2 separate regions of the Homo sapiens genome follow, and region 1 is linked to region 2. The links come from fine-mapping of genetic effects on gene expression. A gene starts in region 2. The other region holds a variant in brackets. All regions are shown on one strand. Distances are between the middles of the regions. Region 1 overlaps CPNE5 (copine 5). Region 2 holds the start of CDKN1A (cyclin dependent kinase inhibitor 1A).

Region 1 (12,499 bases), 80 kb after region 2:
TGGAAAGCAGATCCTCTTGTGGGAAAATTACTCGCAGCAGCCTAGTGTCTCCTGCCTAAGGGTAGAACACAGGCTGCTGAGCAACCAGCTCCTCCTCTGACAGTGGGGCCAAAGTACCCATACCCTTCCTCCTGGGTCCAGGTGGGCAGGTGAGGGAGGCCAGGGAGGAGAGGATCCCTAGACATCAGCTTCCTGCCTGGGCATGCATGCCAGGCTCTCAGTCCCTGGAGCCAGCTCCCTCACTCAGGCTCTCCAGAGAGTTTAAAGAGAGGGCTGGCTCTGGGGCTATAACCTGCCCAGTATGGGTGGCACCAGCTTAGCTCAGCCTCTGAGGGCTCCTTTTCGATGAAACCTCACAGCATCCAGCCCTTTAACTCATCAGTCTCCATCTTCATCCCACCCCACCCGCTAACTGCAAGTCAGGCAGGCTAGACTGATTCATTACTATAGAATGAAAGGCAGCATGTTATGGGAGAAGGAACCCTGCCACCATCTAGGCGTGTGGCTTCAGGCAAGCTCTGTAAAATGGGGATAACTGTTCTGATCCTGCCCACTGTGTTCTGTAAGTTGGGGGTACTATGCAAATGAAAAAAATAAATAGGATGGACTGGGTGTGGTGGCTCATGCCTGTAATCCCAGCACTTTGGGAGGCCGAGGCAGGCGAATCACCTGAGGTCAGGAGTTCGAGACCAGCCTGGCCAAAATGGTGAAAGCCCGTCTCTACTAAAAATACAAAAATTAGCTGGGGGTGGTGGCGCATGCCTGTAGCCCCAGCTACTCTACTTGATAGGCTGAGGCAGGAGAATTGCTTGAACCCAGGAGGCGGAGGTTGCAGTAAGCCGAGATTGTGCCACTGCACTCCAGCCTGAGTGACAGAGCGAGACTCTGTCTCAAAAAATAAATAAAATAAAATAAAATAAAATAAACATAAATAAAAATAAACAGGATGAGGGGTGTTTGAGAGTTACCAGGTGCTATGGACTGTAAGGGGTGGCTGATTAATGGGATTGAGAGGGAAGCAATTTTGATGGGGGAAGAGTGCAAAGGCGGGGTCTGGAGTCAGCCCAGAGGAGGGGCAGGTAAGAGCAGAGGAGCTCCTGAGTGACTGGAGGCAGGGTGTGTGCTCAGTGGGTAGGAGGAGAGCTTGCAGCCTTGAGACTGCAAGCTCAAGGCAGCAGGGAGTGTTGTCATGGGAAAGTGAGTGTGGCTTCCCAGGACCTGACTTCTCCCTCTGCCCTGGAGAACCAGGCAGCCAAGGGTCCACTTGGCTGGGATGAGCCTTTGGCAGTTGCTCCTGCCTGTCTCCTTTCCAGACAGGTGCAGTCACTCACCTGCGGGCTCTTGGCTGCCCACGCCCTGACCTGGCACCTGTCCTGGCAGGCAGCATGCTGGGCAGGCTCTACCCTTAGAGCCAGGCTCTTTCCGTGAGCTGCTGGCTGGGGCCTCCTGGCTCCCCCATCTGTCTGGGCCTAGACACTGTGCCTGGTGGTTCTTTCTGCTCCTTAAACTCATGTTTGACCACCTGCTGGCCCCAGGACCAATCCCTGGCTTATCCCCAATCCCGCTGCCCTTACAGGGCCCTAATAACAGTGAGCAGGTTAATCACTGTCCCCCTCCCCCAACCAGACAGATCAGAGGTGTCAGAAGCTCAGAGCTGTAAGGAACCTTAACACTTACCTATTCCGTTCTCTTTGTGTACAGAGGAGGAAACTGATACCCTGAGAGGAAAAATGACTCACCCAAAGGAACCCAGCAAATTAATGGCAAAGAGAGGCCTAGAGCCTGGGCCTCCTGACTCCTATTGCAGGGTTCTTTCTACATCCCCAAGCCCTTGGCTTTCTGTCACGGAGTCCCTACCAGCTCCAGGTCCTGTCTCTGCATGGAGACCTGACATGACCCAGGCCAGCCTCCTTGGCTCAGGAGTTCCCTCCAAGCTGCTTGGGATCTGGGGATGTGCAGGGCTCTGGATGAGTTGTCTCAGCCCAAACACCAGGGTTTGCTCAGAGCCCAGCACCACAGCCTTCAACCAGGGCTTTGAAGAGGCCAGGGTGGGGCCAGAGCCGGTCCTGTCGGTGTGTGGGGCCCTTTCCCTCTCCCCAAGGCCCATGAAATTGGCTGTATCTCTTCTCACCCTCCTTTGATGTAGTCAAGGAAGGTGCACTCTGACTCCACAGCAAAGGAAAGCAGGGTGACCTTCAAAACAAAAGGGAGCTTGGTCAGTGGGGAGCCTGGGGTCAGGGGAGATGGGTTATGATTCGAGAGCTGACATTGACAGAACACTCGGCATGTGCCAGTTTTGCATGCATGACTGCATGCACTGCCCACACCACCCCATGAAGTACTATTATTATCCCCACTTTATAGCCAAGGAAACTGAAACCCAAAGAGGTGGTGCAATGTGCCCAAGGACACTGCCAGGGCAGAGAAGGGATCTGAAACCAGGGTGTGTCTGACTTCAGAGCCTGCACTCTTGACCTTGACGGAAGGGTCCCATCTGTGTCAGTGGAACCGGGGTCCAAGCCAAGGGTGTTAGTTTCCTCTAAGTGGGCACTGGCTCTTCAGCCCCAGGGACCTAGGGTGGGGTGTGGAGGACAAGGGGGCCCTCCTGGCACAGGCCTAACAACCTGCCAATGCCGACCAGCTTCAGGCTTCCATGTGCCTAGAGCTATTAGTCCTGAAATGTGCCTCTTTGGACTGTGCTTATCTTAAATCTTACTGGTCCCATCTCATCCCTCTCAGACCCAAGATCCTGCCTCATAAGTAGCCCATCCTTTTCCCCAGAGGTAACTGACTACCCCAGGCCCCCTCCCCCAAGCAGAGGCCTTTTAACCTATGCCCTGGCAAAGTTAGCTTTGGCTTTGCCAAGACAGGCAGCTACCTGGCAGCTCATTATCATAACAATTTAGAATCAAGGAGACAAATGAAAGCCTGGCATCCTAGGCCAATTATATGAGACAAGATTAGGGCAGAGGACCTTTCACCTGTGTAAGAGAACGAACTCCTCTCTGGTAGTTTGGGAGCCCCCTATTCATGAAGATTCAGCTGTTTTTACAGGCTCATTGGGAGGGCCAGGTGAGAGCACCACCCTTACTTGGCAGTAAGACCCCCAGCTATTGTGGTTAAGGTATTAGGCACCTGGATGAACCACAGGCCTCCTTCCAAGTGTGGCAGCTCAGACTTACTAGGAACCACGGCAGTGGCTTCAACCCTGACTGATGACCATGAGATGCCCTGGGGGCTCTTAGATCATCCTGCAGCCCAGACCCATTATAGCCGAGTTTCCGGGGCTACATGAATGTTTCAGAGATCTTCTTTTTTTTTTTTTTTTTTAGCTCTTCACGTAAGTCTAATCTGCAGACACAGTTGACCACTCCCCATTCCAACCCCCAGGATGAAGCAATGCCCTAACTGCCCTGACCATATGGGTTCACCCAGGGGCTCGCAGGGTGAAAGCAGACTTTCCCCTATTCAAAGGGTAGTGTCCCTAGACCAGAGCGTCAGCATCACCTCGATGCCAGGTAGAAATGCAGAAATGCAGATTCTTGGCATTTTCACAAGATCCCCAGGGGATTCTGCACACCATAAGTAAGGGATGAAAAGCACTAAACACAGATTCCTGGGCCTCCTAAAGTGGAATCCCAGGGAACTGGCCTGGGCGTCTGTATTTCAGCAAGCTTTCTGCATCCCGGGTGATTTTTCGCGATGAAGATGGGGAAATGCTGGAGTAAAAGGAAAGTCAAGAGACCTGGGCCTAGGCCCGCTCTGTCTCCAGCTCACTGTGTGACCTGGGACAAATCGCATGCCCTCTCTAGGCCACAGTTTCTTCGTCTCTAAAGTAAGAAGGCTGGATGAGATCAGTGGTTTTTGAACCTTTTTATTCCCAGCTGGGGAAGGTGCTGTCTTCCCTAGGGGAATTTAGGAAGGCGTGGGAGAATTTTGGGGGTTCTCATAATGACTGGGGCTCTACTGGTAGCTATGGGCAGCAGCCAGGGGTGCTAAACATCCTGTGAGATGAAGAATTTTCCTGCCCAAATGCTGACAGCCTCTCCACTAAGAAACACCGCAGCCTTGGACAAAGGAAATATGACTCCAAGCCCCAGTCTGTGAAGCAGTTACAATCAAAGAAGTGGTGTTCAGTCCCCTTTGAATGAGCAGAGTAATTTTACAGTTCACAAGCCTGCATCTCCCATGTGTCTGTCACAGCTGCCCTGTGCAGTGGCAAGGTGGGGATGATTTATTAGTCCTACTTTACAGACGGAGAAAATGAGGCTTCTCAGAGGAACCCCAGAGCTCCTGAAAACCTCTTCTAGGTCTGGAGATACAGTCTGCCTGACTCAAATGACCAGGCTTGGCTGCACTAGCCATGGGCCTCTAGAGTGAGGAAGGAACACAGAGAGGATGAATCTGGGTGTGTTTGCACTGCAGAGAAAGTGGCTTGTTCTAGAAATGCACTGTGAGCTCCACCTCAGGGCCTTTGCATGTGCTGTTCTCTACAGCAGGAATGCTGGAATTCCCTTTCCCCAGTATCCTCAATACTTCCTCCATTGCCTGTCCCTTTACCCTTTATACTTTTTCCATAGCTCTCATAATCAACTGACACACACAGGCATGTGTGTGTGTGTGTGTGTGTTTTTTTTTTTTCTCTGTCTCCTCCCACTAGAATATAAGCACCAGGGATTTGGGTCTGTCTTGTTTCCAGCTGTATCTGATGTGCCTAGAATAGTGCCTGGCACACAGTAGCACTCAGTAAGTATTTGCTGAAGAAGCGTATGAATGTCCTCAAGACCAGCCCCGAGAAGCCACTAGGCCGGCGTGTCATCCCAGGAAGGTCA[C/A]GGTTAAGCAGGGGCAGCGCCCGTAGCAGCTGCCAGCTCTGGAGTGAGATGTCATGTTGAGTCCCATCTCTACCACTTTCTAGCTGTGTGACCTTGGCTGAGTCACTTTCCTGCTTGCAGCCTTGGTTTCCTCTTTCATGACTAGGGGATGATAATATCTGCCTCTCAGGGCAACAACCTGTGAAAAGCACCAACGTGGGGAATTTCCCAGGGTAGGGGCCCAATAAATACGACTTCTCTTCCTCTTCCTTCCTGCAGGAAGTCCCGTGGATGTCTCTGCGATTCCTCATGCTAGATACAGCCAGCGCCTGTTGTGTGGTCTGCAAGTCAACTCTCTCCCCTGGCTGTTGCTCCATCTGCCCCACCCCTCCCCACCCCATCTCTCTTGGATGTCTGATTCCCACGCTCAGCCCCTGCACACACACAGACGCACGGGCCTCCCTGATACCAGACCTAGCTTGGGGCTCAGAATGTCTACACCCGGCTGCAGAGACCGGGGTGGCTACTCACTGTGCCAGAATTCACGTATTTCTTTTTCTTCATTTTCTTTTTCGGGTTTACCACCTGCAGGAAAAACCAGTTACCAGGTAAGGCATGCTTCCAGGCAGTCAGGGTGAGTCTTGAGGGCTTCCAACCACCCATGGGTGTGGTCCAAGCCCAGCCCCATTAGAGTGTGGGGTGTGAAGACCACGGGGCCAGGGGAGAAGGGTTTAAGGAGGATTTGTGGGAGACTGGTATTGAGTCTGGGTTACACAACTGGGTTCTCCCATCAGACCCAGGGTCCCACGATCAACCGGGAATATTTATTTAACCTTCTCTCCCACTGTTCCCCGGAACACACGCACCCTCCACCCAGTATAGCCAAAGAAGTCTTGATGTTGCAAAGCGGCCCTATCTGTACCTGTCCCTTGTGTTGGTTGAGGCTGCTCCCCTCACCAAAAATGCACCCCCTTCCTCTCTCAGCCAATTCCAATCTCCCCTGTTCCTCCTTTGGGACCCAGCCCAAGGGCTGCCCAGGGCCTCTGAGGCTCCCCTCTCCATCACCATCCCTCTTACTTGGCAGCAAGAACCTCTTTAGCTATTCTTTGAGTGTAAGCTTTAACTTCCAAACCAGACCTGTGTCAGATAAATCATGGGGCTAGGCTCAGAGTAGGTGCTCAGAGAAGGCTTGTTGGTGGCTAACTCAGCGGTCTCAACCAGGGGCGATTTTACCCCCAGGAACGTTTGGTAACATCTGGAGACGGTTTTGGTTTCCACAACTGAGGGGGTGAGTAGAGGCCAGGCATGCTGCTAAACATCCTACAGTACACAAGACAGCCTCCCACGGCAGGGAGTGATGCAGTCCCAAATCCCAGTAGTGCCAAGGCCAAGACTGGGCAAAGTGACGAGAGCCACCCAGCCCTGAGGCCCCCCACGAGACTTCCGCACTTACTGTATTTGTATTCTCATTTGACCCTCGCCAGTTTTTCTTTGTTTTGTTTTTAATAAGGGAAGTCTAGGCACAACTTTTCCCTAATGTCCCATCAAACAAAGCCAGGCAATTTTCATACCTCCTGTGCTGCCTGTTGGTTTCTGGTGAACTCATTTCCCCTTTCCCTGTCTTTGTTCCCACAGAGGCCGTCAGCTGATCTTTACCGTGGTCTCTTCTGTCTGGGTGAGTATTGCTATCTACTTCCAGCAAGAAGGAAACTAAAGCACAGCGACACCAGGTGATTTGCCTAAAGTCACACAGCCATCTGGGTAGTGACAGGATTAGAAACCAGGTTTCCTGCCCCCGGGCCAGTGGTGCATACATTGGTGCCACCTTGATAACAGATACAAACAGATCTCTTTGACATACATTTATGGGGTGGGTGGAGACATATATTGCTTCTCCCCTGGAATCATCTATCACCTATGTTGGAGAGAGAAGATATGTCCTCAGGGCAAAAAGTGACAAGGGCCATGGAACAAGGGGGATCACAGAAGTGTCAGGGGAGTTAGAGGAAGGAAAGACCACTCTAGGTGAGAGTGTCAGCAAAGCCTCTCTGGAGCAGGAAGTCTTGAAGGCAGACTTAGAGGCACAGGAAGGCTCTGGGCACGGAGAGATGGATGTCAGAGGAGGTTCTGTGGGAGAAATGAATAGAACCCAGGCCCAGTTTGATGGCAGAACCACAGGGTGGAAGAGTAAGCTGGGCTGGTTGGAGGAGAGCCTAGAATGCCCAGTGAAAAATGTCTGAATGTCACCCAGCGGCCTGCAGGGAACTCTGATGACCCCCAAGCTGGTAGGAGACAAAATCAGAGCAGGCTCTAGGACACTGGGGCCTGGTGGAGGTGAGTGTGAGGGGAGGAGGAGGCTCATCCAGGAAATATTTGCCTAGTTCTGCCACCTAATAATAGCTGTGTGACCTTAGGCAGGTTACTTAACCTCAATGTGCCTCAGTCTCCTCATCTCTAAAATGGGAATAAGAAGTACCTGCCTCCCGGAAAGGTATGAGGATTAAATGGGCCAATGCAAGCAAAGTGCCTAGAACAGTTTGGAATGTAGTAAGTATTATCTATACGTGTCTGTTGCTTTTTTCTAAGACGGGGTCTTGCTCTATGGCCCAGGCTGGAGTGCAGTGGTGGGGTCATAGCTCACTGTGGCCTCAACCTCCCGGGCTCAAGCAATCCTTCCAGGTAGCTGCCACCATGTCTGGCTATTTTTTTTTTTTTGGTAGAGATAGGATCTCGCTATGTTACTCTGGCTGGTCTCAAACTCTTGGGCTCAAGCAATCCTCCTGCCTCAGTCTCCCAGAGTGTTGGGATTACAGGCGTGAGCCACTGCACCCAGCCTTAGTTGCTATTTTTCAAAATTACTACTACTATTATTACTGCCACCATAAGTCCATGCGAGAGGTCATGAGGACTTGGGGGTATTGGGACAGGTGCTGAGCTATGGTGAGAACAGCGCTGTCAAGAAGTGACCACGCCTCTTGGGCCCTGGGCGTGGCTATAGAGGTTCGAGAGAGGGAGGGGTTGGGGTGACCAGGTAGACACAGAAGGAAGGCGCTGGATTTGGGGCACAGGTGGGAAGTTCACGTGGGAGGTCTGGCAAGCTGTGCAGGTAGAAACTGAGGGCCTGGGCGAGATGGTGAGAGAGCCCGGGAGAGAAGACCAGAGCACCCTCTTTAGCACTGGAGGACGCCCCCTCCACGGGGTTACCCAGATGGTGAGGTGCTCACGGACACATTCATGGGAAAACAGCTTAAGTAGGCAAGCTGTTAAGATGAGGGCAAAATGGCAGCCCCAGTGCTGCACTGTGCCTCAGTTTCCCAATCTCTCCCTTGAGGGTGTTGAACTATCGGAATGGACAGCATCTCAAACTTTTGCTCCAACATAGCCCTCCCAGCTGGGGAGAATGAACCCGGAGTCCTGAGAGTAACCAAAGATTTGGCCACAAGCATGTTTCTTCTAAGCTTTCTATGTTATCTTTAAATTAGCCTGTATTCCACATTTCCACTCTCTGATATAACTGCTTTAATGTTAAAGCAATGTTCTGTTCTCAGATCCCTGTTTACCCTGAGGTTTCATGCTCCCAGCCTCAGCCTCTCCAGCCCCGCCACGGTGAATCCCATGCAGGGGGCCAGCGCCACCTAGGGGCCAGCCGAGGAGCTGCCCCTCCACTAAGTCACCTCCCTTCTTCTTGGTGGTCAGGCGGGGACAGGACAGGTCTGGAATCTGCCCTCCTGCGCACATTAGGTGGGGTGGGTGGGGGCACTGAGGGGCTCCTAGGGGCCAGGAGCTGTGCTGGCTCTGGGGATGCAGCAGTAAGTGCAACACAACCCCCACCCTGAGGACTTCAAGGTCTTTGAGGGGTTGAATAGTGTCACAAAACAGAAAATAGCCAGAAGGAACCCCAGGAGCACTGACAAGTGTCCACTCCAGGCTCTGGGGTGGGGCGGGTGTGCAGGTGGACACAACTTCCTGGAGGAGGAACACCCACAGGGAGGCTCCGTGGACCAATAGCTCCTACCCAGGAGAAGACAAGAGGGAGTCTCAGGTGGAGGCACCCATATGAATCGAGCCCTGGAGGCTGAGACAGCACGGAGGTTCAGAGAGCCTCAGGTGGCAGGACGGGGATGAATGTGGGAATGGGCAGAGGGAAGGGGCAGGGGCCAGCTCCTAGGGGCCTCCAAAGGCATGTGATGTGTGTTTTTATTTACATGCACAGCCAGGCGTGGTGGCTCACACCTGAAATCCCAGCACTTTGCAAGGCCGAGGCGGGTGCATCACCTGAGCTCAGGAGTTGGAGGCCAGACTGGGCAACATGGCAAAAACCCATCTCTACCAAAAATGCAAAAAAAAAAAAAAATCGCCAGGGTGGTGGTGTGTGCCTGTGGTCCCAGCTACTTGGGAGACTGAGGTGGGAGGATAGCTAGAGCCTGGAAGTAGAGGTGGAGGTTGCAGTAAGCCGAGATTGTGCCACTGCACTCCAGCCTGGGTGAGAATGAGACTCCATCTTAAAAAAAAAAAAAAAGCACGCATACACAGATTGCGGGTGGCTGGCTGGGGAAACAGCATCCCAAATGAAAGAGCTTGGAACTTCACCCTGTAGGTCAGTGGATCTCAGCTGCGGTGGGAGCATCTTTCAGTATCTCTTCCCACCTCCCATGTGCGAACCAGGCTAAGGAGGTGGGTGGAATGCCCTACACAGATTTTAAGCAGGGGAGCGATGTGATCAGATCACTATTTTGGTGGAGTACGCTGGTTACTGTGTAGAGGACAGAAGGAAGAAAGGAGGCTGTGGCAAAGCCCCATAAGGGGGGAGATGATGAAGTTGGTGGTGGTGGCCTGAGATGAGGGGAACGATGTCAGAAAACATGGGTGGTAGGCGAGCAGTGTTTGCTCGTGGACTGGATATGGAATGAGGGATGGGGAAGTTAAGTATGACCCCTAAGGTGCCCTGAGCCCCCATGATGGGAATATTTGAGATGAAGCCGGCTCGCCAGGAGGACGGGAGTGCTGTGGGAGGTTTAGCTAATGTGTTCAGTTTTGGAAGGCTGAGCTACAGGAAGGGCCAGCAGACAGCTGGACATAGGAGCCTGACACTAGGGCAATGCCAGGGCCCGAGGCACAGGTCTTTACTGGCTGGAGCCTGTTCCCTTTTCAGGCAGTTCTGATTCTAGCAAGGCCTTCCTGCCCCAAACCAGCCTCCCCCTGGGACTGCCAGAGCTGTGCTCCTTTTTCAGCTGATGGCCTTCCGATGTGTGCAGACAGTGCTTCTGCCTCCCAGTGTGGCACTTTCTCTTGTTGATTACAAAGAAGCAGGGATCAACAACTGAGAAAACAAGTCAATTGAATGCTTTCTGCTCTTAGCCCGAGAGAAACAGCTCCTTCTGGGCCTGTCAAGCACCTTTAGAAGCCAAGCTCGGAGAGATCTGACCCCTTCCCTTCACCTCCCTAAATCTCCTCAAAGGAGGCCAGAGAATGGTGGCATCTGCTTCTCTCTGACTGGGGTGGGGCGGGGGAGCGGGGACAAAGACAGCTTCTCTCTTTGCAGATGCAGAAAACAAAGCAATGTACTGTATTAGAGCCCTTTCAAATAAATTCATCCACACTCCATCTTCACAATAGCCATGTTCAATCTCATTCAGCATGCGAATGTATAACACACCTACTGTGTGCCCGGCAGTGCCCTGGCCAGTGAGGGGAGGCAACAGACAGGGCTGTCACCTCACCAGCCCTTGGAAAGTCTAGTTGGAACACAAGACCTGCCCACTCAGAACCGACATGCAGGGCAAAGGAGTGGGGGTAGCATGGGATTTGGATTCAGTGATGGAACTCAAGGCCAGCTCTTCAACTTTGCTGGCTGAGTGGCTGCTAGCATGAGGACAGTGCCAGGATGGTAGGATGGTTGTAAAATGTGAACCTCTGGGCACACAGTGCTCAGCAGATGGTGACAGAAGACAGTGCTGACCTCTGGGTCAGGCATTGTTCCATTAACTTATTTAATTCTCAGTTTGCATGGCACAGAGTAGTTCAGAGACTTAGCCAAGGTCACGTAGCTAGTAAGTGGTAGAGTCAGGATACGAACACAAGCAGTTATTTGGGTTATAAGTATCTGCCATTAAGTGGGTTTGGCATGAACCATGATGTCTGTGGAAGTTCAGACAAGAAAGCACGGGGACAAGAGTGGCTGGGAAGACCTCACAGAGGAGCAGGACCTGAGCTAGATTTGGAAGGTGGGGAGGGAATTGCAAAAGGGAGAGCACACAGTAGAACGCGGTGGCTCAGGCCTATAATCCCAGCACTTTGGGAGGCCAAGGCAGGAGGATCGCTTGAGCCCAGGAGCTCAAGACCAGCCTGGGAAACATAGCGAGATCCTGTCTCTACAAGAAATTTAAAAAATTAGTTGGGCATGGTGGTGCGTGCTTGTGGTCCCAGCTACTCGGGAGGCTGAGGTGGGAGGATCGCTTGAGCCTGGGAGATTGGGGCTGCAGTGAACCAGGGCAACAGAGTGAGGCCCTGTCTCAAAAAAAAAAAAAAAAGAGGGAGAACACACACATGCACACGCATACACACACACGCACGCGCACACACACATACATGCACACACACACACACACGCATGCGCACACACGCAAATACATGCTCACACACACACACACACATGCAGACATTGTCCCTTGAGGGCAAATGCTACTGTTACACCTCCAGAGAGACCAGGTGCCTTGTCCGAGGCTCTCCAGCTCTGGGGCTAGAACAAGGAAGGTATCCTGACCTCATTCTCTTGAAGTTTTCATTCTGAAACAGGTAAGATACTCAGCAGGCCCTGAAACTGTTCTGATTGAAAGCACAAGGCCACCTCGAACTCAGGACCTCAGGTCTCAAGCCCAGAACCTTCGTATACTGGCTCCCATCGTGCTCCTATCTCTCTTGCTTGTGAGAACTGCTCTTTATGGGGACACTATAACTCGGTGATTTGGAATCAGCCAAGTCTGGGTTGTTTGTGTCTTGATTTTGCCACTTACTGAATGGTGGAACTTTGGGCAAGTTCTCGCACTTCTCCAAGACTTGGTCTCCTTAACGGTAGAATGGGACAATAACCCCTTTCTCACAGGAAAACACACCAAGCCCCCAGCCCAGTGCATGGCTCACTACAGTCCTCAGTGACTGGGCCACTTAGTAGTGCAAACCCTGGATTTCGGGTGCCCACCTCACCTCATAGATGTTGAATTGGCTCTGCCCACGGGCCAGCTCCCGGTAACTGGTGGTGAACTCCCCAATGAAGTCATGGCTGCAAGGGAAGACGGCTGCTGAGACCAAGGCCAGGCTGTGCCCTGCCTCTGCCCAGCCCCAGCCTTGCACACATCCGTTTCTTTGGCTCCCAATTCTACCTGGGACTCCACTCCAGGGGCACACGCCAGCAGACAGGCTGGGTCCGTGGGAAGAGAGCCCAGTGTTGCCCACAGAGGAAGAAACCCAATTGTCACCCAGTAAAGAGCAGGGCCCTGGAAGAACAGCACCCACTTCTACTTGGATCCTTGTTTGAACAAGGGTATTTGGGGGACAACTGGGGAAATTTGAATATGAAATGAATAGTGAATGGTATTTAAAAATATTGTGGCCGGGCGCGGTGGCTCATGCCTATAATCCCAGCACTTTGGGAGGCCAAGGCGGGCAGATCACCTGAGGTCAGGAGTTCG
Region 2 (8,404 bases):
GATAATTTAAGGTCAGGAGTTCAAGACCAGCTTGGCTAACATGATGAAACATGACGAAACCCCCGTCTCTGCTAAAAATTCAAAAATTAGCCAGTCATGGTTGTACATGCCTGTAATCCCAGCTACTCGGGAGGCTGAGGCAGGAAAATCGCTTGAACCTAGAAAGTGGAGGTTGCAGTGAGCTGAGATCACGCCACTGCACTCCAGCTTGGGCAACAGAGCAAGATTCCATCTCAAAAAATATATAAAAAATAAAAATAGGCTGGGCGCAGTGGCTCACGCCTGTAATCTCAGCACTTTGGGAGACCGAGGCAGACAGATCAACTGAGGTCGAGGTTTGAGACCAGCCTGACCAACATAGAGAAACCCTCTCTCTACTAAAATACAAACATTGGGTGGGGCGAGTCATCGTCTGACGTCTGGCCGTGAGATGTTTCGGGAGCCGGGGTCTCTCCGCTGCAGACATGACGAAGGGCCTTGTTTTAGGAATCTATTCCAAAGAAAAAGAAGATGATGTGCCACAGTTCACAAGTGCAGGAGAGAATCTTGATAAATTGATAGCTGGAAAGCTGAGAGAGACTTTGAACATATCTGGACCACCTCTGAAGGCAGGCAAGACTCGAAACTTTTATGGTCTGCATCAGGACTTCCCCAGCGTGGTGCTAGTTGGCCTCGGCAAAAAGGCAGCCAGAATCGACGAACAGGAAAACTGGCAGGAAGGCAAAGAAAACATCAGAGCTGCTGTTGCAGCAGGATGCAGGCAGATTCAAGACCTGGAGCTCTCTTCCGTGGAGGTGGATCCCTGTAGAGATGCTCAGGCTGCTGAGGAGGGCGCGGTGCTTGGTCTCTATGAATACGATGACCTAAAGCAAAAAAAGAAGATGGCTATGTCGGTGAAGCTCTATGGAACTGGGGATCAGGAGGCCTGGCAGAAAGGAGTCCTGTTTGCTTCTGGGCAGAACTTGGCATGATGGAGACGCCAGCCAGCGAGATGATGCCAACCAGATTTGCCGAAATTATTGAGAAGAATCTCAAAAGCGCTAGTAGTAAACCGAGTTTCATATCAGACCCAGGTCTTGGATTGAGGAACAGGCAATGGGATCATTCCTCAGTGTGGCCAAAGGATCTGACGAGCCCTCAGTCTTCTTGGAAATTCACTACATAGGCAGCCCCAATGCAGACAAACCACCCCTTGTTTGTTGGGAAAGGAATTACCTTTGACAGTGGTGGTATCTCCATCAAGGCTTCTGCAAATATGGACCTCATGAGGGCCGACATGGGAGGAGCTACAACTATATGCTCAGCCATTGTGTCTGCTGCAAATCTCAGTTTGCCCATTAATATTATAGGTCTGGCCCCTCTGTGAAAACATGCCCAGCGGCAAGGCCAACAAGCTGGGGGATGTTGTTAGAGCCAGGAACAGGAAGACCATCCAGGTTGGTAACACTGATGCTGAGGGGAGGCTCATACTGGCTGATGCGCTCTGTTACGTGCACACATTTAACCCGAAGGTCATCCTCAATGCCACCACCTTAACAGGTGTCATAGATGTAGCTTTGGGGTCAGGTGCCACTGGGGTCTTTACCAATTCATCCTGGCTCTGGAACAAGCTCTTCGAGGCCAGCATTGAAACAGGGGACCGTGTCTGGAGGATGCCTCTCTTCAAACATTGTACAAGACAGGTTGTAGATTGCCAGCTGGCTGATGTTAACAACATTGGAAAATATAGATCTGCGGGAGCATGTACATCTGCGGCATTCCTGAAAGAATTCGTGACTCATCCTAAGTGGGCACATTTAGACATAGCAGGTGTGATGACCAACAAAGATGAGGTTCCCTATCTATGGAAAGGCATGACCGGGAGGCCCACAAGGACTCTCATAGAGTTCTTACTTCGTTTCAGTCAAGACAATGCTTAGTTCAGATACTCAAAAATGTCTTCACTCTATCTTAAATTGGACAGTTGAAGTTAAAAGGTTTTTGAATGAATGGATGAAAATATTTTAAAGGAGGCAATTTATATTTAAAAATGTAGAACACAATGAAATTTTTATGCCTTGATTTTTTTTTCATTTTACACAAAGATTTATATATTTTTTTTTTGAGACGGAGTCTCACTCTGTCACCCAGGCTGGAGTGCAGGTGGCATGATCTCAGCTCACTGCAACCTCCGCCTCCTAGGTTCAAGCGATTCTCCCACCTCAGCCACCTGAATACCTGGGACTACAGGTGCCCACCACCATGCCCGGCTGATTTTTGTATTTTTAATGGAGACGGGGTTTCACCATATTGGCCAGGCTGGTCTCAAAACTCCTGACCCTGTGATCTGCCCGCCTCGGCCTCCCAAAGTGCTGGGATTACAGGCGTAAGCCACCACGCCCGGCCAGTATATATTTTTAATTGAGAAGCAAAATTGTACTTCAGATTTGTGATGCTAGGAACATGAGCAAACTGAAAATTACTAACCACTTGTCAGAAACAATAAATCCAACTTTTTGTGCAAAAAAAAAAATACAAATATTAGCTGGGCATGGTGGTGCATGCCTGTAATCCCAGCTACTCGGGAGGCTGAGGCAGAATTGCTTGAACCTGGGAGGCGGAGACTGCAGTGAGCTGAGATTGTGCCACTGCTGACTTTGTCTCAAAAAACAAAACAAAACAAAAAAACAAAATGAAAACAAAAAGCCAGGGCTGCCTCTGCTCAATAATGTTCTATCTTTGTTCCGCCTCTTCTCTGGGGTCTCACTTCTTGGGAGCCTGTGTGAAGGTGAATTCCTCTGAAAGCTGACTGCCCCTATTTGGGACTCCCCAGTCTCTTTCTGAGAAATGGTGACATTGTTCCCAGCACTTCCTCTCCCTTCCTAGGCAGCTTCTGCAGCCACCACTGAGCCTTCCTCACATCCTCCTTCTTCAGGCTTGGGCTTTCCACCTTTCACCATTCCCCTACCCCATGCTGCTCCACCGCACTCTGGGGAGGGGGCTGGACTGGGCACTCTTGTCCCCCAGGCTGAGCCTCCCTCCATCCCTATGCTGCCTGCTTCCCAGGAACATGCTTGGGCAGCAGGCTGTGGCTCTGATTGGCTTTCTGGCCGTCAGGAACATGTCCCAACATGTTGAGCTCTGGCATAGAAGAGGCTGGTGGCTATTTTGTCCTTGGGCTGCCTGTTTTCAGGTGAGGAAGGGGATGGTAGGAGACAGGAGACCTCTAAAGACCCCAGGTAAACCTTAGCCTGTTACTCTGAACAGGGTATGTGATCTGCCAGCAGATCCTTGCGACAGGGCTGGGATCTGATGCATGTGTGCTTGTGTGAGTGTGTGCTGGGAGTCAGATTCTGTGTGTGACTTTTAACAGCCTGCTCCCTTGCCTTTTTCAGGGCAGAAGTCCTCCCTTAGAGTGTGTCTGGGTACACATTCAAGTGCATGGTTGCAAACTTTTTTTTTTAAAGCACTGAATAGTACTAGACACTTAGTAGGTACTTAAGAAATATTGAATGTCGTGGTGGTGGTGAGCTAGAAGTTATAAAAAAAATTCTTTCCCAAAAACAACAACAAAAAGAATTATTTCATTGTGAAGCTCAGTACCACAAAAATTTAAATAATTCATTACAAGCCTTTATTAAAAAAAATTTTCTCCCCAAAGTAAACAGACAGACAATGTCTAGTCTATTTGAAATGCCTGAAAGCAGAGGGGCTTCAAGGCAGTGGGAGAAGGTGCCTGTCCTCTGCTGGACATTTGACAACCAGCCCTTTGGATGGTTTGGATGTATAGGAGCGAAGGTGCAGACAGCAGTGGGGCTTAGAGTGGGGTCCTGAGGCTGTGCCGTGGCCTTTCTGGGGTTTAGCCACAATCCTGGCCTGACTCCAGGGCGAGGCAGGCCAAGGGGGTCTGCTACTGTGTCCTCCCACCCCTACCTGGGCTCCCATCCCCACAGCAGAGGAGAAAGAAGCCTGTCCTCCCCGAGGTCAGCTGCGTTAGAGGAAGAAGACTGGGCATGTCTGGGCAGAGATTTCCAGACTCTGAGCAGCCTGAGATGTCAGTAATTGTAGCTGCTCCAAGCCTGGGTTCTGTTTTTTAGTGGGATTTCTGTTCAGATGAACAATCCATCCTCTGCAATTTTTTAAAAGCAAAACTGCAAATGTTTCAGGCACAGAAAGGAGGCAAAGGTGAAGTCCAGGGGAGGTCAGGGGTGTGAGGTAGATGGGAGCGGATAGACACATCACTCATTTCTGTGTCTGTCAGAAGAACCAGTAGACACTTCCAGAATTGTCCTTTATTTATGTCATCTCCATAAACCATCTGCAAATGAGGGTTATTTGGCATTTTTGTCATTTTGGAGCCACAGAAATAAAGGATGACAAGCAGAGAGCCCCGGGCAGGAGGCAAAAGTCCTGTGTTCCAACTATAGTCATTTCTTTGCTGCATGATCTGAGTTAGGTCACCAGACTTCTCTGAGCCCCAGTTTCCCCAGCAGTGTATACGGGCTATGTGGGGAGTATTCAGGAGACAGACAACTCACTCGTCAAATCCTCCCCTTCCTGGCCAACAAAGCTGCTGCAACCACAGGGATTTCTTCTGTTCAGGTGAGTGTAGGGTGTAGGGAGATTGGTTCAATGTCCAATTCTTCTGTTTCCCTGGAGATCAGGTTGCCCTTTTTTGGTAGTCTCTCCAATTCCCTCCTTCCCGGAAGCATGTGACAATCAACAACTTTGTATACTTAAGTTCAGTGGACCTCAATTTCCTCATCTGTGAAATAAACGGGACTGAAAAATCATTCTGGCCTCAAGATGCTTTGTTGGGGTGTCTAGGTGCTCCAGGTGCTTCTGGGAGAGGTGACCTAGTGAGGGATCAGTGGGAATAGAGGTGATATTGTGGGGCTTTTCTGGAAATTGCAGAGAGGTGCATCGTTTTTATAATTTATGAATTTTTATGTATTAATGTCATCCTCCTGATCTTTTCAGCTGCATTGGGTAAATCCTTGCCTGCCAGAGTGGGTCAGCGGTGAGCCAGAAAGGGGGCTCATTCTAACAGTGCTGTGTCCTCCTGGAGAGTGCCAACTCATTCTCCAAGTAAAAAAAGCCAGATTTGTGGCTCACTTCGTGGGGAAATGTGTCCAGCGCACCAACGCAGGCGAGGGACTGGGGGAGGAGGGAAGTGCCCTCCTGCAGCACGCGAGGTTCCGGGACCGGCTGGCCTGCTGGAACTCGGCCAGGCTCAGCTGGCTCGGCGCTGGGCAGCCAGGAGCCTGGGCCCCGGGGAGGGCGGTCCCGGGCGGCGCGGTGGGCCGAGCGCGGGTCCCGCCTCCTTGAGGCGGGCCCGGGCGGGGCGGTTGTATATCAGGGCCGCGCTGAGCTGCGCCAGCTGAGGTGTGAGCAGCTGCCGAAGTCAGTTCCTTGTGGAGCCGGAGCTGGGCGCGGATTCGCCGAGGCACCGAGGCACTCAGAGGAGGTGAGAGAGCGGCGGCAGACAACAGGGGACCCCGGGCCGGCGGCCCAGAGCCGAGCCAAGCGTGCCCGCGTGTGTCCCTGCGTGTCCGCGAGGATGCGTGTTCGCGGGTGTGTGCTGCGTTCACAGGTGTTTCTGCGGCAGGTGAATGACGGGCGTGGGTCGGTGCGCGCTCGGCTTGCGCACACGGTGTCTCTAAGTGCGCGGGTGACGAGAGTCGGGATGTGCCGGAGACCCCGGGGCGGAGAGCGGGATTACAAGTACAGGAATCCCTGGTCACGCTCCCCGCCCCTGGAAACCCAGCTGGGGCGAGGGAGGGCGTGGACGGGACCGTTCTGGGAGCTCGCCTTTGGCTGCGGTTGGCTCCAGGCCCCAGGCGCAGTTTGCTCGCGGCGTGGGGATGAAGTCCGTGTCCCTGGAGGGGCCCAGGAAGGGCGAGGAAAGCGGAGTGGAGTAAGTTCGTCTAGGATCGGTCCCGGGTGGCTCTGGGATCCAATCTGCGCCGCCCTGGCCCAGGTCCCAGGTTCAGGTCCTTTACGCCACTGTGTCCACCACCTGGCTGAGCGCTGAGGTCAGCGCGGGCTGTTTCCTGGCCCTTGGGAATGTGCCAGGACCCGTCCCCTAAGGACTAGCGAGGAGGTGACTCACTGTGACAAGGAGACCCCAGGGAACGGACTGTATGAGGTCAGAACCCCGCCCGGGATGGGGTACAGCGGGACTCCAGAAGCCCTCTCCCCTGCCCCTTCGCGGTCTCCGTCCTCCCATCGGCACAGTGACCTATTTGGCTGGAACAGTTTGTTCCCAAGGAAGCCGGGCACTGGAGGTCCGGGACACCGCGTCGGGTCCCCGCTCCGCGGCGCGCTGTAGGGGTCGGGGAGTCACGGCCCTGCTCTGGGCGGGCTCTAACCAGCCTGTCAGTCGGGGAAGGGCAAGGGTCTCCTCTACCTCTTTCCCACCGCGGCCGGGAGAATCGCGGCCCAGCCTGTCCTCGGGTCGGGGCGCTGGACTCCGGGGCGGGAGCGGAGCCCACGCCTGGATGGGAGGCGGGGAGGGTTCATGTCTTTGAGGGGTGGGGGGTCTGGGGGGCACGACGCTGCTCAGGGCCTCTATCAGCTGCCTCGGGGGCTCAGGGCTTCCCGACCTAGCCCAGATTCCCTCTCCGAAAGCTACAGGGCTGAGCGGAGCAGGGGGGCGAGTCGCCCCCTGGGGCGCCGCCGCCTGGCGCGGACCACAGCGCGTCCTCTCCGTCCCAAACCCCTGGGGGACACTTGCGCCCTCTTCGTGAGGAAAAGCATCTTGGAGCTGGGTTAGGAACTTGGGGCGCCCAGGCAGCTTCCCCTCTCCTTGCCTCCCTCCACGTCGCGTTTCTGGGAGGACTTGCGAGCGGTTTTGTTTTCGTTGCTCCCGTCTATTTTTATTTTCCAGGGATCTGACTCATCCCGTGCTTTGGGCGTGGAGATAAGGTGGAGGGGCCGGCTCCCGGCGCGCGCGCGCGTGCGTGTCTGCGCGGGCGTGTGTGTGTGTGTGTGTGTGTGTGTGTGTGTGTGTGTCTGTGTCAGAGACGGCACAAGAGCGCGCGGTTTCCCAACAGCGGCGGGAGTTTCGGAAGCCTGGCCGGCTCAGCGTGACGTGTTCGCGGCCCCCCGGTCCCCTCCCATTCTCCCCCTCCCCACCCCAGGGTGACGCGCAGCCGGAGTGGAAGCAGTTTTGGCGGGCGAGCAGCGCCTTGCAGGAAACTGACTCATCACTACTCCCTCCAGCGGTCCGAGGCTCTGCCCACGCACCTCCCACTCCGCGCGTGATTTCCTGGAGGCCGGCGCCCCCTCCCGGCCCTGGCGGGAATAGCACACAGGCTTTCCCGCGGAGTGGGGCTGGCCGGCGCGAACCGCCGCGGCTACTCCTGGGCTCATCCGAGATCAACCCCTATGCCATTACCACCCCTTCAAAGGAGCACTCCTTAGGTTCAACAGTATTCACTGAGCTCTTACTGGAAATTAAAATATGGCTGAAGTCTAAGGCAGGAAGGCCAATAAAGGAGGCTATTTTTAATTGTTTCTAAAACAAGGGTTTGCGTTTCTGAGTTTTCTTTGGGCTGAAAGTTATTATGAGCATGAGAGCAGATTTTGATGGGGGAGGAGAGGCCTATGAGAGCCATAAGAGAAGGAGGGGTGGTAGAAGAGGAGAGGGTGCCTGCCTAGATCCTAGTCCTGTCTTGAACTCCCGAGAGCCAGGGAATATCCAGCACCTTGATGAAGCCCTAGGCGGGCGCCTCCTCCTTGTGCCTATGATGTATTGAGACCCAGAATGTCCATTTCAAACATACCAGTGTGTCTCCGCTTGGCTGGCAACCCAAGAGTGCCCATCTGAGGAATTGTGCCAAACACTTGCTTGAATCTTCAATCTGGATTAAGTTGGTCTCGGGAGGCAGGGCCTCAGCAATCTATATTTTGAAAAAACTCCCTAGGTGCTTTTCTTTCTTTCTTTTTTTCTTTCTTTCTTTCTTTCTTTCTTTCTTTCTTTCTTTCTTTCTTTCTTTCTTTTTCTTTCTTTCTTTCTTTTTCTTTCTTTTCTTTCTTTCTTTCTTTCTTTCTTTCTTTCTTTCTTTCTTTCTTCCTTTCTCTTTCTCTCTTTCTTTCTCTTTCTCTCTTTCTTTCTTTTCTTTCGACAGAGTTGCACTCTGTCACCCAGGCTGGAGTGCAATGGCACCATCCTGGACTCAAGTAGTCCTCCTGTTTCAGCCTCCCAAGTAACCGGGACCACAGGCGTGATCCCCCCGCCCCCATGCCCAGATTTTTTTTTTTTTTTTTTTTTTTTTGAGATGCGGTCTCGCTCTGTCACCCAGGCTGGAGTGCAGTGGCGTGATCTCGGCTCACTGCAAGCTCCGCCTCCCGGGTTCACGCCATTCTCCTGCCTCAGCCTCCCGAGTAGCTGGGACTACAGGTGCTGCCATCATGCCCGGCT

Evidence for each region. PIP is the estimated chance that this variant, and not a neighbour inherited with it, causes the effect.
Region 1: its variant is fine-mapped to the expression of CDKN1A in whole blood (TOPMed, PIP 0.96).

What each region holds. Positions count from the first base shown.
Region 1 is chr6:36,750,903-36,763,401 of GRCh38, forward strand. CPNE5 (copine 5) reads right to left here. Exons shown (of 21, transcript NM_020939.2): 12 at 12,015-12,090; 13 at 5,343-5,396; 14 at 2,132-2,193. Among named protein-coding and RNA genes, the nearest start is that of RAB44, 59 kb to the left of the region's middle. RefSeq lists enhancers at 4,460-5,659, 8,345-8,534, 8,370-9,338. The variant C/A (reference allele first, on the strand shown) is at 4,833.
Region 2 is chr6:36,673,353-36,681,756 of GRCh38, forward strand. CDKN1A (cyclin dependent kinase inhibitor 1A) reads left to right here and starts at 5,362. Exons shown (of 3, transcript NM_000389.5): 1 at 5,362-5,446. PANDAR (promoter of CDKN1A antisense DNA damage activated RNA) reads right to left here and starts at 1,774. Exons shown (of 1, transcript NR_109836.1): 1 at 269-1,774. DINOL (damage induced long noncoding RNA) reads right to left here and starts at 5,207. Exons shown (of 1, transcript NR_144384.1): 1 at 4,257-5,207. It also overlaps the pseudogene LAP3P2. RefSeq lists enhancers at 2,874-2,963, 3,014-3,083, 3,063-4,262, 5,455-5,644, 5,656-6,243 and silencers at 5,175-5,404, 6,975-7,364.